3 linked regions of the Homo sapiens genome follow. The protein of the gene in region 3 interacts with the protein of the main gene of each other region in a biochemical or structural test. Each region holds a gene or a part of one and is shown on either strand. Other genes may lie near its edges. The genes, in order: SRPK1, LRRK1 and C11orf52.

Region 1 (3,648 bases), on a different chromosome or scaffold from region 3:
AATAAAATTACCTCTTTTATTGTACACTTCTGAACACACATCTGAATTTTGTCTAATTTTGTGTGGTGTGATTTTTCAGAATATTGCTTTAAGCTTCTTGTCCTCTTTTCAGGCAAATTAAAGCGAAATCAAAGGAAACTTTTAGAAAATGCGTTGTATCACTAAGTAAAGAGTCTATGATTTTTGTCAGTTAGCACAGAAACTTTAAGGGAAGTAATTTCTTATGAAAAATACTGAGTAGGCCGGGCACGGTGGCTCAAGCCTGTAATCCCAGCACTTTGGGAGGCCGAGGCAGGTGGATCACCTGAGGTCAGGAGTTCAAGACCCACCTGGCGAACATGGTGAAACTCTGTTTCTACCAAAATACAAAAATTAGCTGGGCATGGTGGCAGGCTCCTGTAATCCCAGCTACTGGAGAGGCTGAGGCTGGAGAATCACTTGAACTGGGGAGGCAGAGGTTGCAGTGAGCCGAGATTGAGCCCACTGCACTCCAGCGTGGGGGACAGAGCCAGACTCTGTCTAAAAAAAAAAAAAAAAGATACTGTCTAAAAGAAAGAGAAAAAGAGAGAAAGAAAAAGAAAGGAAGAAAGAAACTGGATGAACAATTTAAGGTATGATTGTATTTATTATACTAAGCCTCAACTTTGAAGAGGCTGTGAATGTAGTTTATGTTTAGAGTCTAAAAGGGTGTAATTGTTCACATTCTATTATAATGAAAAACTGACTTGTTTTATGTTTTTATCTGGATGTTTTAGAACTGTAGAATTGAAAGGAACCATAGCTGATTTTCTTCACAGGTATCAAAGTGACGTGCGGTGAGCTAATGGAAAGGTTATTGCAACAGCTGTGCTTATAAAGGTCAATCAGATTTTTCAGTAAAAGATGAAGTCGAATCTTACTTAGATTGGATAAATCTAAAATCACCTGTTTATAAGCTGTTTTTAAAATGTATAAAGACATTTCATACATTATTTTACTTTTCATGCATGTTTAGCTTCCTTTAATGCACATTCCTAATTGCTGTTGATCTTTTTGTATTTAAAGGAGACAGGACTACATATGACTAGTTTCATGTAGACTATGGGAAGAGATTTGAACAGAGAAGCAGGAAGGAAGGGATGGGAAAGGAGAGAGAACAGCTGATAATGTGGAAAGACTATTGTTCTAAAGTCAATTCTGAGTCATTTCTTAGAAAAATACAAATCACAGATTACCCAGATGTCTAAGGAAAACTGCTGCAACCATCTTAAAACAGTATCTTGTGCTTATTGTGGTCACTTTGTAGATGGCTCTCTCTCTCTCTCTCTCTCTCTCTCTCTCTGTGTGTGTGTGTGTGTGTGTGTGTGTGTGTGTGTGTGTTCAAAGAATTAAGAATTCTAAACCAAGTAATTTTTTAAAAACCTACACAGGGTGTCGTGATGGCCATATCTGTTTTTTCTATTATTTAATCTTGTAATGTTTGTCATTGTGCCAGATTTCTTTACTAATTTGCAAAAGTTCCAAGTAAAACTATAGAAATACTCTCAAATCTCCCCAGTAATGCTGAGTACCTTTATTTGACCCTAACTAAGCAAAGAAGGCTTTTTAACTATTGAAATATCTTAGTAGGTTTGAATTTCAAGTTCCAAGATATTTTTCTTTTTCTTTTTTGGAGTTCAATGGCATAATCTCGGCTCACTGTAACCTCTGCCTCCTGGGTTCAAGTGATTCTCCTGCCTCAGCCTCCCGAGTAGCTGGGATTACAGGTGGATGCCACCACACCCAGCTAATTTTGTATTTTTAGTAGAGATGGGGTTTCACCATGTTGGCCAGGCTGGTCTCAAACCCCTGACCTCAGGTGATCTGCCCGCCTCGGCCTCCCAAAGTGCTGGGATTACAGGTGTGAGCCACCGTGCCCGGCCCCCAAGATATTTTTCAAACATTGCTAGGTGGTTTCTCTGTAGCTTCTGTCCATTGATTCCCTATTTTATTCTTTTCTCCATTTGTTCTTAGCCATTTTTTCCTGTCTTTCTTCATCCTTATCTCCCAGCTGTCTTTGCTCCTGCATTATTTACTACTGTTAGAGATTGAAAGGATATAACTCAAAACACTATGTTAAGGGTTAGTAATGGCTCATGTCACTCTCCTGCCTCTACCCGTTTTCCCAACATAACATACCCACACAGAGCAGTACATCCACATTCGTGTGTATGTTTGTTCAGGCGTTTTTTTCTCTGGACCACTATCGTTTCTCATATTAAAATATAAAGGGCCCTAAACTAGAAAGTTAGTTCTTACAGAATTCCATATAAACTGGCTCACTCTACTTGCCTGGAGGGTGAGGGGAAAAGAATGATTAAGAAGGAGGACAGTTGGTTTCTCTATATAATGTTGACATTAGCCAGTCATTATTGTCTGCTTATATGACCTCCTATGTCTTTAGGATACTTTTTTTTTCATGCTGTATTCTGTCTGTTTTGCTAGCTCCTCTTATTCATAATGTGCCCTAAATGTGCTTACTCAATAACATAAGCCTTTTATTTTCAGCCTTTTGTTATTTTCTTTACACTGTCTCCCCATTAGATTTTTTTAAAAATATAACCTTGTGGGCCGGGTGCAGTGGCTCACACCTGTAATCTCAGCACTTTGGGAGGCCGAGGTGGGCGGATCACGAGGTCAGGAGACCGAGACCATCTTGGCTAACACGGTGAAACCTCATCTCTACTAAAAATACAAAAAAAAGCTGGGCGTGGTGGCAGGCGCCTGTAGTCCCAGCTACTCAGAAGGCTGAGGCAGGAGAATGGCGTGAACCTGGGAGGAGGAGATTGCAGTGAGCCAAGATAGCGCCAACTGCACTCCAGCCTGGGCGACAGAGCAAGACTCCGCCTCAAAAAAAAAAAAAATAACCTTGTGATTTCAATTACTAGTGCTTCTGATTGCTACTCATTAGCTTTCTTTCACTCAAATTATTTGGCTCTTCCTTTTTGCCACTTGATTATGATGTTCTGTCAAGTTTTTTTTTAAGCTACTATATGTTTGGTCATTTTAATATCACTGCTTACAAATTAAAACATTTTCAAATTGTAATACTTCTCTCAACAAATAAAAATTAAGCAGATGGAAGCTAGAAACATAAGAGAATAGCTTTACAATCCTATTTTATGTTTAGTCTTTTTAAGTAATCTGCATTTTAAATAATCTTGTTTTGATAATTTTTTTTATTTAATTGCTTTTTTATTTTTATTTATTTTGAGACAGAGTTTCGTTCTTGTTGGCCAGGCTGGAGTGCAATGGCGCAATCTCGGCTCACTGCAACCTCCGCCTCCCAGGTTCAAGCGATTCTCCTTCCTCACCCTCCCGAGTAGCTGAGATTACAGATGCACACCACCACGCCCAGCTAGTTTTTGTATTTTTAGCAGAGACGGGGTTTTGCCATGTTGGCGATCCACCTGCCACAGCCTCCCAAAGTGCTGGGATTGAAGGCATGAGCCACCATGCCCAGCCTATTTAATTGCTTGTTTAAAAAAATTTCCTGGCCAGGTGCAGTGGCTCACGCCTATAATCCCAGCACTTTGGGAGGCCAAAGCGGGCGGATCACGAGGTCAGGAGTTCAAGACCAGACTGGCCAACATGGCGAAACCCCATCTCTACTAAAAATACAAAAATTAG
Region 2 (3,648 bases), on a different chromosome or scaffold from region 3:
AGATCCCAATGTTGGTTTTCTCTGGGGAATAGATGACGGGCTATTTTCTGTTTCCTCTTTAGACTAGTCTGTCTTTTTCAACGTTTCTACAAAGAGCAGAAATCCATAAACAACCCACCAGAACGTGTCAATCCATGTAACTTTCCAAGACCCATAGGGGATCCCCAAGTCCAAGTGCATCCTCATGGGAATGGCTTGGGAAATGCCAGACACTTTCCAGCCTGGGTCTCACAGTGGACCTGTCTGCCTCTGCAGGACCAGAAAATCTACATCTACACCCTCAAGGGCATGTGCCCCTTAAACACACCCCAACAGGCCTTGGATACTCCAGCTGTCGTCACCTGCTTCTTGGCCGTGCCTGTTATTAAAAAGGTGAGGTCGGGGCAAAGGCAGGTATGCAGGTCTCTGATGCACTTCCACGCCTAGGAGGCGTCTCCTAGCTATGTCAGGGTGGCGCCTGCAGAGCCACACCTAGGACCACCTGGCCTAGGACGTAGACTTAGAGACGGTGGGAGGAAAGATATCAGACCTGGTCCGTCATTAGTGCCTTCCGGTTTGCAAAAACCTAAGTCAAGTCCCCAGCCAGACTGCAGGCCGAATGAAAAACCCCCTTTCACATGCAAATGCCCTGACTCAGGTGGAAGGACTGTTGGTACAAATGGCACGGTGAGCAGTCATGCGTGTGCCCTTCCCCTATCCGGAGCCTCTTCCCCACCTGCCCAGGCCAGAGCCACCTCACAGCCACTTGATCACCAGGTCCTGGAGGTCCTGATCTCCCTCCCTCCATCTCTGCCTCCCGCCAAGTACTCGCCGTCTTACACCAGACGCAGTTTCTCTTTGTGCAGCATAGCCCTGCAGACTCAGCTCTTTAACCTCCTAGCCCTGGCCTTTCTAAATGAGACCCCAAGGGGCACTCTCCCCATTAAAGGCCCAGCCAGCTGTGCTGCACCTTGGGATTAGCCCCAGCCTCTATGAGGCTGGCCTCCAGTCCCTGCTGGGCCCGGCACCCTCCCCACAAAGCACCCCACTCTGTGCTGGGCCCTTGACATCCCAGCCTCCTCCAGGAACAGCCCCTCCACGCACCTCTTCCCAGACGGCCTCCGATTCAGTTCTCAAGACCCGGGGCCTTGTCCCCTCCTTTGAGAAGCTGCCCCTCAGTGGGGGGCAGCTCCCTGGCTTTTCCGGGCTCCTCCGCCCACAGGATTCAGGCACGGCTCAGCCAGCTCTGGTTTCATCCACCCTGAGGGGCCTGTCTGTGCATAGGCGCCCTCACTAAATGCACAAGAAGCCTTTACTGGTGTTGCTTTGTTAAAATGTGACTGTCATCATCCAATTCCAGTTTGCCCATCTACAAAACAGGTATAAGAAGAGACAGAAGGCCTAGCATACCCAAAGGTCTAGGCCGGTGTGCTTGGTAAATGAGTATTATTATTACTTCTGGATGGTCGCAAAATACATGAACTCTTCTCTTCACCCTTCTTCAGTTTCATTTAAAAAAAAAAAAAACAGGTATGAAATGAACCTTAGAGTCATTTATGACCATGGCCCCACAGCGAGGCTACGCAGCTTGGGACCAGGCCCGTACCAGAGCGCAGGAGAACACGACACAAAGTGTTATTGAGGCCACCGCTGGCGAGAGCCCCCAGCCAGGGCACCACCTCCTGCACGACCAGAGGGAATAAAGCCTGCTCTGTGCAGGGCCTCCTGGGCAGGGTGTCTGCCCCCTCCAAGGCCGCCAGCGCGAAGCCTGCATTCTTGCACGCGCACCCACGTTCACACCCAGCCGGGACGTGGCACTCACCGCCCTGGCCGGGGCCTGAGCCAGGACTGCAGATAGAGACCTGGAGCCTGTTTGCCTTGGCTGCCTTCTTTCCCTAAAGTCCTGGGGATGGATTTCGATACGCTTTCTTAGAGCATGTTGTCCTGGACAGTGAGCTACGGGTCTCCACTCCATTGCCCTGCACAGCCAGCCTCCTGAGCTCCCCCAGCTCCCCACAAGGAGGCTTTCTGCCCTGCCCCCTCACTGGCATGAGGCCCAGCTCCCTGCTCTGCCCTGACTCCAGCTTTGTTCTGCAGACCTCTTCCCACCCCCACCACAGCCGACGCGGTGTCTAGGCTGCGGAGCTGCACTCTGTTCCTGGCTCTGCCCTGGGAGGTGCCCCGGGGCGGTCTGGGGTGGGCCCAGCATTCAGCAAGGTCCCTGCAACTTTGGCCTCTGCCCGGTGACCTCTGGCGGGTGTAGAAGAGCTCATGCTTCATTGAGGGGGTGGGGGGCACCCTGAGGACCCTGTCAACGTCAGCTGAACCACAGGCATCTCGATAGATGTAAGCTGGGATGAGGGCTCAGCAGGCTGAGACAGGCCTCCAGAAGAGGGTTGAGTAGGAAGCGATTTCTTCCAGAATTAGTTCAGCAAACACATGTCATCCACTTGGAGCAGGAGCCAGGTGGAGTCACAGGGCCACCAAGATGAAGGAGACTGAGCCCTTCCCTGTGCCAGGCTAGTGCCACGGGGATGCTGGTGGGCTGGGAGCCCATCCTTATGGAACACTCTGCCTGGTGGGGGGGGTGGCAGGCAGGGGGCAGTGCACAGATGCTTGCCATGCCCCCACTGCTGTCATGTTAAGCAGCACCGAGAAAAGGGCGGGGGCACCAGGTCCTGCCTCTGAAGGAGGCCTTGGTGGCCTCAAGGAGAAGGCAGCTCCCTGCTGCTCGCCCTGCAAGAAGCTGGCAGAAGCAGAGGCAGCCCATGTGGTCCAGGTGACACGCAGCCTTACTTGGTGCCACAGGCCCTGCCTCTGGGTGGCACATTCCTTTCTTTGCTGCAGGGATGGTAGATATGGCTCTGCGGAGTCAGAGCTGCACTTCTTTAGGAGTAGCCCCGGCCTTTCTAAGAGATTTGCTGCCCTGAGGCGCACTGGTGGAAAGTGACTGCCCGCCTGGTGTGGGTGCAGATGAGTCCAGTGCCTACTCTGTGTCTCTCTTGGAATGTGTGAAATGGAAGGATGTGACACATCCCTGTCTCCTTCCTTCAGAATTCCTACCTGGTCTTAGCGGGCCTCGCCGATGGGCTTGTGGCTGTGTTTCCCGTGGTGCGGGGCACCCCAAAGGACAGCTGCTCCTACCTGTGCTCACACACAGCCAACAGGTCCAAGTTCAGCATCGCGGATGAAGACGCACGGCAGAACCCCTACCCAGTGAAGGCCATGGAGGTGGTCAACAGCGGCTCTGAGGTCTGGTACAGCAATGGGCCGGGCCTCCTTGTCATCGACTGTGCCTCCCTGGAGATCTGCAGGCGGCTGGAGCCCTACATGGCCCCCTCCATGGTTACGTCAGTCGTGTGCAGCTCTGAGGGCAGAGGGGAGGAGGTCGTCTGGTGCCTGGATGACAAGGCCAACTCCTTGGTGATGTACCACTCCACCACCTACCAGCTGTGTGCCCGGTACTTCTGCGGGGTCCCCAGCCCCCTCAGGGACATGTTTCCCGTGCGGCCCTTGGACACGGAACCCCCGGCAGCCAGCCACACGGCCAACCCAAAGGTGCCTGAGGGGGACTCCATCGCGGACGTGAGCATCATGTACAGTGAGGAGCTGGGCACGCAGATCCTGATCCACCAGGAATCACTCACTGACTACTGCTCCATGTCCTCC
Region 3 (4,420 bases):
TGAAAAGGATACAGTTAATGGTAGAGTAGAGTACAGAATGGATTGCATGGAAGAAGCATGGCCATGAAATAGTGCAATGATTGGGGCACAAGAAAAGAAAGTAAGATGTGGGAACCAGGCGTGGTGGGAGGGTCACTTCAGGCCAGAAGTTCAAGTCCAGCAGGGGCAACATAGCAAGACCCTATCTTGGCCAGGTGTGGTGCCTCACACCTGTAACCCCAGCACTTTGGGAGGCTGAGATGGGAGGATTGCTTGAGGCCAGGAGTTCGAGACCAGCCTGGTCCACATAACAAGACCCCCATCTCACATTAATTTAAAAAAAAAAAAAAAGACCTTGTCTCTAAAAAGATTTTTTTTTTTTTAATTAGCTAGGCACAGTGGTGTGAGCCTGTAGTCCCAGCTACTCGAGAGGCTGAGGGGGGAGAATCTTTTGAGCGTAGGAGTTTGAGGTTGCAGTGAGCTAGCCACTCAACTCCAGCCTGGGTGACAGATTGAGACCCTGTCTTTAAAAATAAAAGAAAGAAAGAAAATAAGATGCTTTGTAATAATAACAACAATGCCTAACTCTTACTGAGTGTGTCCCATGTGCCAGGCCCTGCACTAGAGCTTTATTTTTCACCACAATCCTGTAAGATTGTCACTCTTACCCATGTTTCATAAGAGGAGGAGTTCAAAGTCCAGGGTATTCTCTGTGGAGTGCAGAGCTGAGTGGTGGGCCCTGAACATCCACTTAAAGGACAATAACCAGGCATCCGAGGAAAACACTAAAAATGGGGTGAGAGAACTGAACACAAGAATGATGGGTTTCACAGATTCTCGTAGAGCCCATATTTTCTACTGGTGAGTGCGGGTGAGTCTAACTTTGGGTTACTGGAAGGAGACGCAGAGTTGAGGGGTAAGTGGAGAATCAGTAGTTCTGAACTGTGGATAAGGAAATGAGTGGTTAAGAAGTGCTGAGGCCATCCTGATCATAGAATCATCTGATTTTATACCAGAAAGGGGATTAGATTCAGTTTTTTTCATTTCACAGCCCTAGAAACTTAGGCCCTATAAAGGTTAAGTGATTTGCCCACATCGATTTCAAATAGCAAGGGAGAATATATGAGGAACCCATTTCCCCAAACTTAAGTTTCCAAGAGACTCCAGTATCCCAACCCAGATTCTGTACAAAAATAATAAGAAACTGGTACCAATTGCCTCGAAAGTGAAACTCAGTTAAACCTGAGTGGTGCTGAGCAAACTACTACATTAGGCACTCATCTATTATAGAGGATATATTTCAAAGACAGAGTGATGTAATGGAGAAGCATTTCGTAAGGAAACCAAGAGCCCTTTTCTATCTCAGGTTTCTTTTTATTGAAGCTTGAAGCTCAAGTTCATGGCTTCATCAAAAGACGCTTCAAATCCTGAAGTTGAGATAGCTCTCACCTGGAGCCCGTGTGTTGTTCTACCCTTTGGCTGGGAACACAGTCACCTGGGAATCATTCCAGCAGGTGGCTTCAAAAGTCCAACCTGCTAGGTTGAAATCTGACACTGACACAGACTCCGGGAGCTGCCGCGGAAAGCTCAACCAGGAACCCGGAAATGCACAAGCCTCTTGATGCATAAAAACAGCTGGGCTCCCTTGGAGACAGAGCGCCATGGGAAACCGGGTCTGCTGCGGAGGAAGCTGGTGAGTAGGCTGGAAGGGCAAAGGGGAACATCTATCTCTGTTGGTGGATGTAGAGGCCCCGAAAATCAGAGGACCTGGAGATAGTTGTCTGCCAGCCTCCCACTGCCACCTTCCTCTGCCTGGTACCTCCTTGTTCCAACACCAGAGCAGCACCTCCTTTCAGGAGGCCTTAGAAGACAGAGCCAAGTGGCTGGGCGCGGTGGCTCACGCCTCTACTCCCAGCACTTTGGGAGGCCGAGGCCGGCGGATCACGAGGTCAGTAGATCGAGACCATCCTAGCCAACATGGTGAAACCCCGTCTCTACTGAAAATACAAAAATTAGCTGGGCATGGTGGCGCGCACCTGTAGTCCCAGCTACTCGGGAGGCTGAGGCAGGAGAATCGCTTGAATCCGGAAGGCGGAGGTTGCAGTGAGCCGAGATCGCGCCACTGCACTCCAGCCTGGCAACAGAGCGAGACTGTCTCAACAACAACAACAACAAAAAAAAACAGAGCCAAGCTAGCTGTCTGCGGAATGGCCAGAGCAGGGCAGGAATATTGAACCGGCATTGTTTTTCTGTGCCCTCTTCCTCCCTTTCCCCTTCTTTCCCTTTCTTCCTGGATGAGAGTAATAATTGTAGCACTTGAGAGCTTTCTATGTGCCAGACATTTTACAGTCTCATTTAATTTTTCCAATACTTTATGAGGTAAATGGTTTTGCCCCTCCTCCTATTTTACAGTCAGCTGAGAAACTGAGGCTCAGAGAAATTAACTAACTTGCCTAAGGTCACATGGCTGGTAAGCAAGTAAACCAAGATTCCAACTGAGGCCCACCTGACTTCAGAGGCCACCTTTTGAACCACTGCATAATATTGCCTCTTAGATCAAGCAAGTCAACTTTGAAGCAATGTTTATTTAAAAGGGCAGAAGTGCCAGGCGTGGTGGCTCACGCCTGTAATCCCAGAACTTTGGGAGGCCGAGGCGGGTGGATCACGAGGTCAGGAGATCGAGACCATCCTGGCTAACACGGTGAAACCCCATCTCTACTGAAAATACAAAAAATTAGCCGGGCGTGGTGGTGGGTGCCTGTAGTCCCAGCTACTCGGGAGGCTGAGTCAGGAGAATCCCTTGAACCCAGGAGACGGAGCTTGCAGTGAGCCGAGATTGCACCACTGCACTCCACCCTGGGTGACAGAGCAAGACTCCGTCTCAAAAATAAAATAAAATAAAATAGAATAAAATAAAATAAAATAAATTAAAGGGCAGAAGTGGTCGGATGCAGTGACTCACACCTGTAATCCTAGCACTTTGGGAGGCTGAGGCAGGCAGATGACTTGAGGCCAGGAGTTCAAGACCAGCCTGGCCAACATGGCAAAACACCATCTCTACTAAAAATACAAAAAAATTAGCCAGGCATGGTGGCACACGCCTGTAATCTGAGCTACTTGAGAAGCTAAGGCACGAGAATCCCTTAAGCTTGGGAGACAGAGGTTGCAGTGAGCTGAGATTGCGCCACTGCAGTCCAGACTGGGCAACAGAGCGAGACTATGTCTTGAAAAAAAAAAAGAAAAGGAGTTTGAGACCAGCCTGGGCAACATAGGGTGGCCCCATCTCTACAAAAAAATTAAAAATTAGCTAGGCGTGGTGGTGCGTGCTTGTAATCCCAGGTACTTGGGAGGCTGAGGCAGGAGGATCACCTGAGCCCTGGGGGTAGAGGCTGCAGTGAACCATGATCACACCACTGCACTCCAGTGTGGGTGACAGAATGAGACCCTGTCTCAAAAATGAAAATAAAAATAAAAGGGCAGAAGTAGGAAAAAGAAGAATATCCATGGAATATCTGAATATGACTTTCACACTTATTTACTATGTGACCATAGGTAATAAGTCCCTTAATTTCTCTGTATCCATCCTCACATGTAAAATGTAGATAATACATCCTACATTGTGTAGATCACAGGCTTATTTTGAAGAGCAAAGGATATAGCGTATGTGAAAACCTCATAATAAATTATCTGTGGGGTTGTTACTATTCTTTCCCAGAATTTTCATCACTGCCATGCCGTAAATTCCTGGTCCTGGTTTTATTCTGTCTACTGCCTTCCATGCCTGGGGCAGATCTGGAAGATGTCATGTTATAAATAAAGCATCATTATATTTAGATAGACAAGTGAAGTGCATTGGAAAACACACAGGTTTTGGAGTAGTACATTGGATTCAAGTCCTGCCCTACTACTCATTCATTTATCCATTCATTTATTAAACAGTGTTTATTGAACATGTACTACAGGCACAGTGATAGACACAGAAGACATAGTAATAAAAGGACATTTGGTCCCTGCCTTGTTGAGTAAGAAATACCCTGAAGGTCCAACATTTGGTAACTGTCTAAATACATGGCATATCCAATTAATGGGAAATACGTAGCCACTTCATAAAGAATGTTGGAAGAACACCTAACATCATGGAAAATTTTACTCTTTATTAAGTTAGTAAAAAAGGCCCTTCATTAACCCGTCTGTAAAATGGGAACAAAAATATGTGTTTCCTGGAATGTCAGGATTGAAAAAATAAAGCACCCTTTAAACTCTGAGGTGCCCTATAGACATAGGACATCTAGAAGCACAGAAAAGCTTCTAGAGAAGGAGATGTAACAGCTTCTTTTATTCTCTTTCTTCCCAAGTGTTGGTATTCTTTTTTCATTACTGATTAGTTCTCTGATGGTGATAGTCATTAGTGGTCAACTTTTACTCATGCTTATTATATGCT

Evidence for each region.
Region 1: of the proteins of C11orf52 (region 3) and SRPK1, one has a biochemical effect on the other in vitro, tested with the Homo sapiens proteins (one large-scale study listed by BioGRID and IntAct).
Region 2: the proteins of C11orf52 (region 3) and LRRK1 form a complex in vitro, tested with the Homo sapiens proteins (one large-scale study listed by BioGRID).

Annotation. Positions count from the first base shown.
Region 1 is NC_000006.12:35,882,972-35,886,619, reverse strand, and holds part of SRPK1 (SRSF protein kinase 1), read left to right. Parts: intron 1-3,648. UniProt on the Homo sapiens protein: Serine/arginine-rich protein-specific kinase which specifically phosphorylates its substrates at serine residues located in regions rich in arginine/serine dipeptides, known as RS domains and is involved in the phosphorylation of SR splicing factors and the regulation of splicing.
Region 2 is NC_000015.10:101,062,319-101,065,966, forward strand, and holds part of LRRK1 (leucine-rich repeat serine/threonine-protein kinase 1), read left to right. Parts: intron 1-255; coding exon 256-372; intron 373-1,083; exon of another isoform or gene 1,084-3,033; coding exon 3,034-3,648.
Region 3 is NC_000011.10:111,917,333-111,921,752, forward strand, and holds the start of C11orf52 (uncharacterized protein C11orf52), read left to right. Parts: upstream 1-1,580; 5' UTR 1,581-1,640; coding exon 1,641-1,672; intron 1,673-4,420.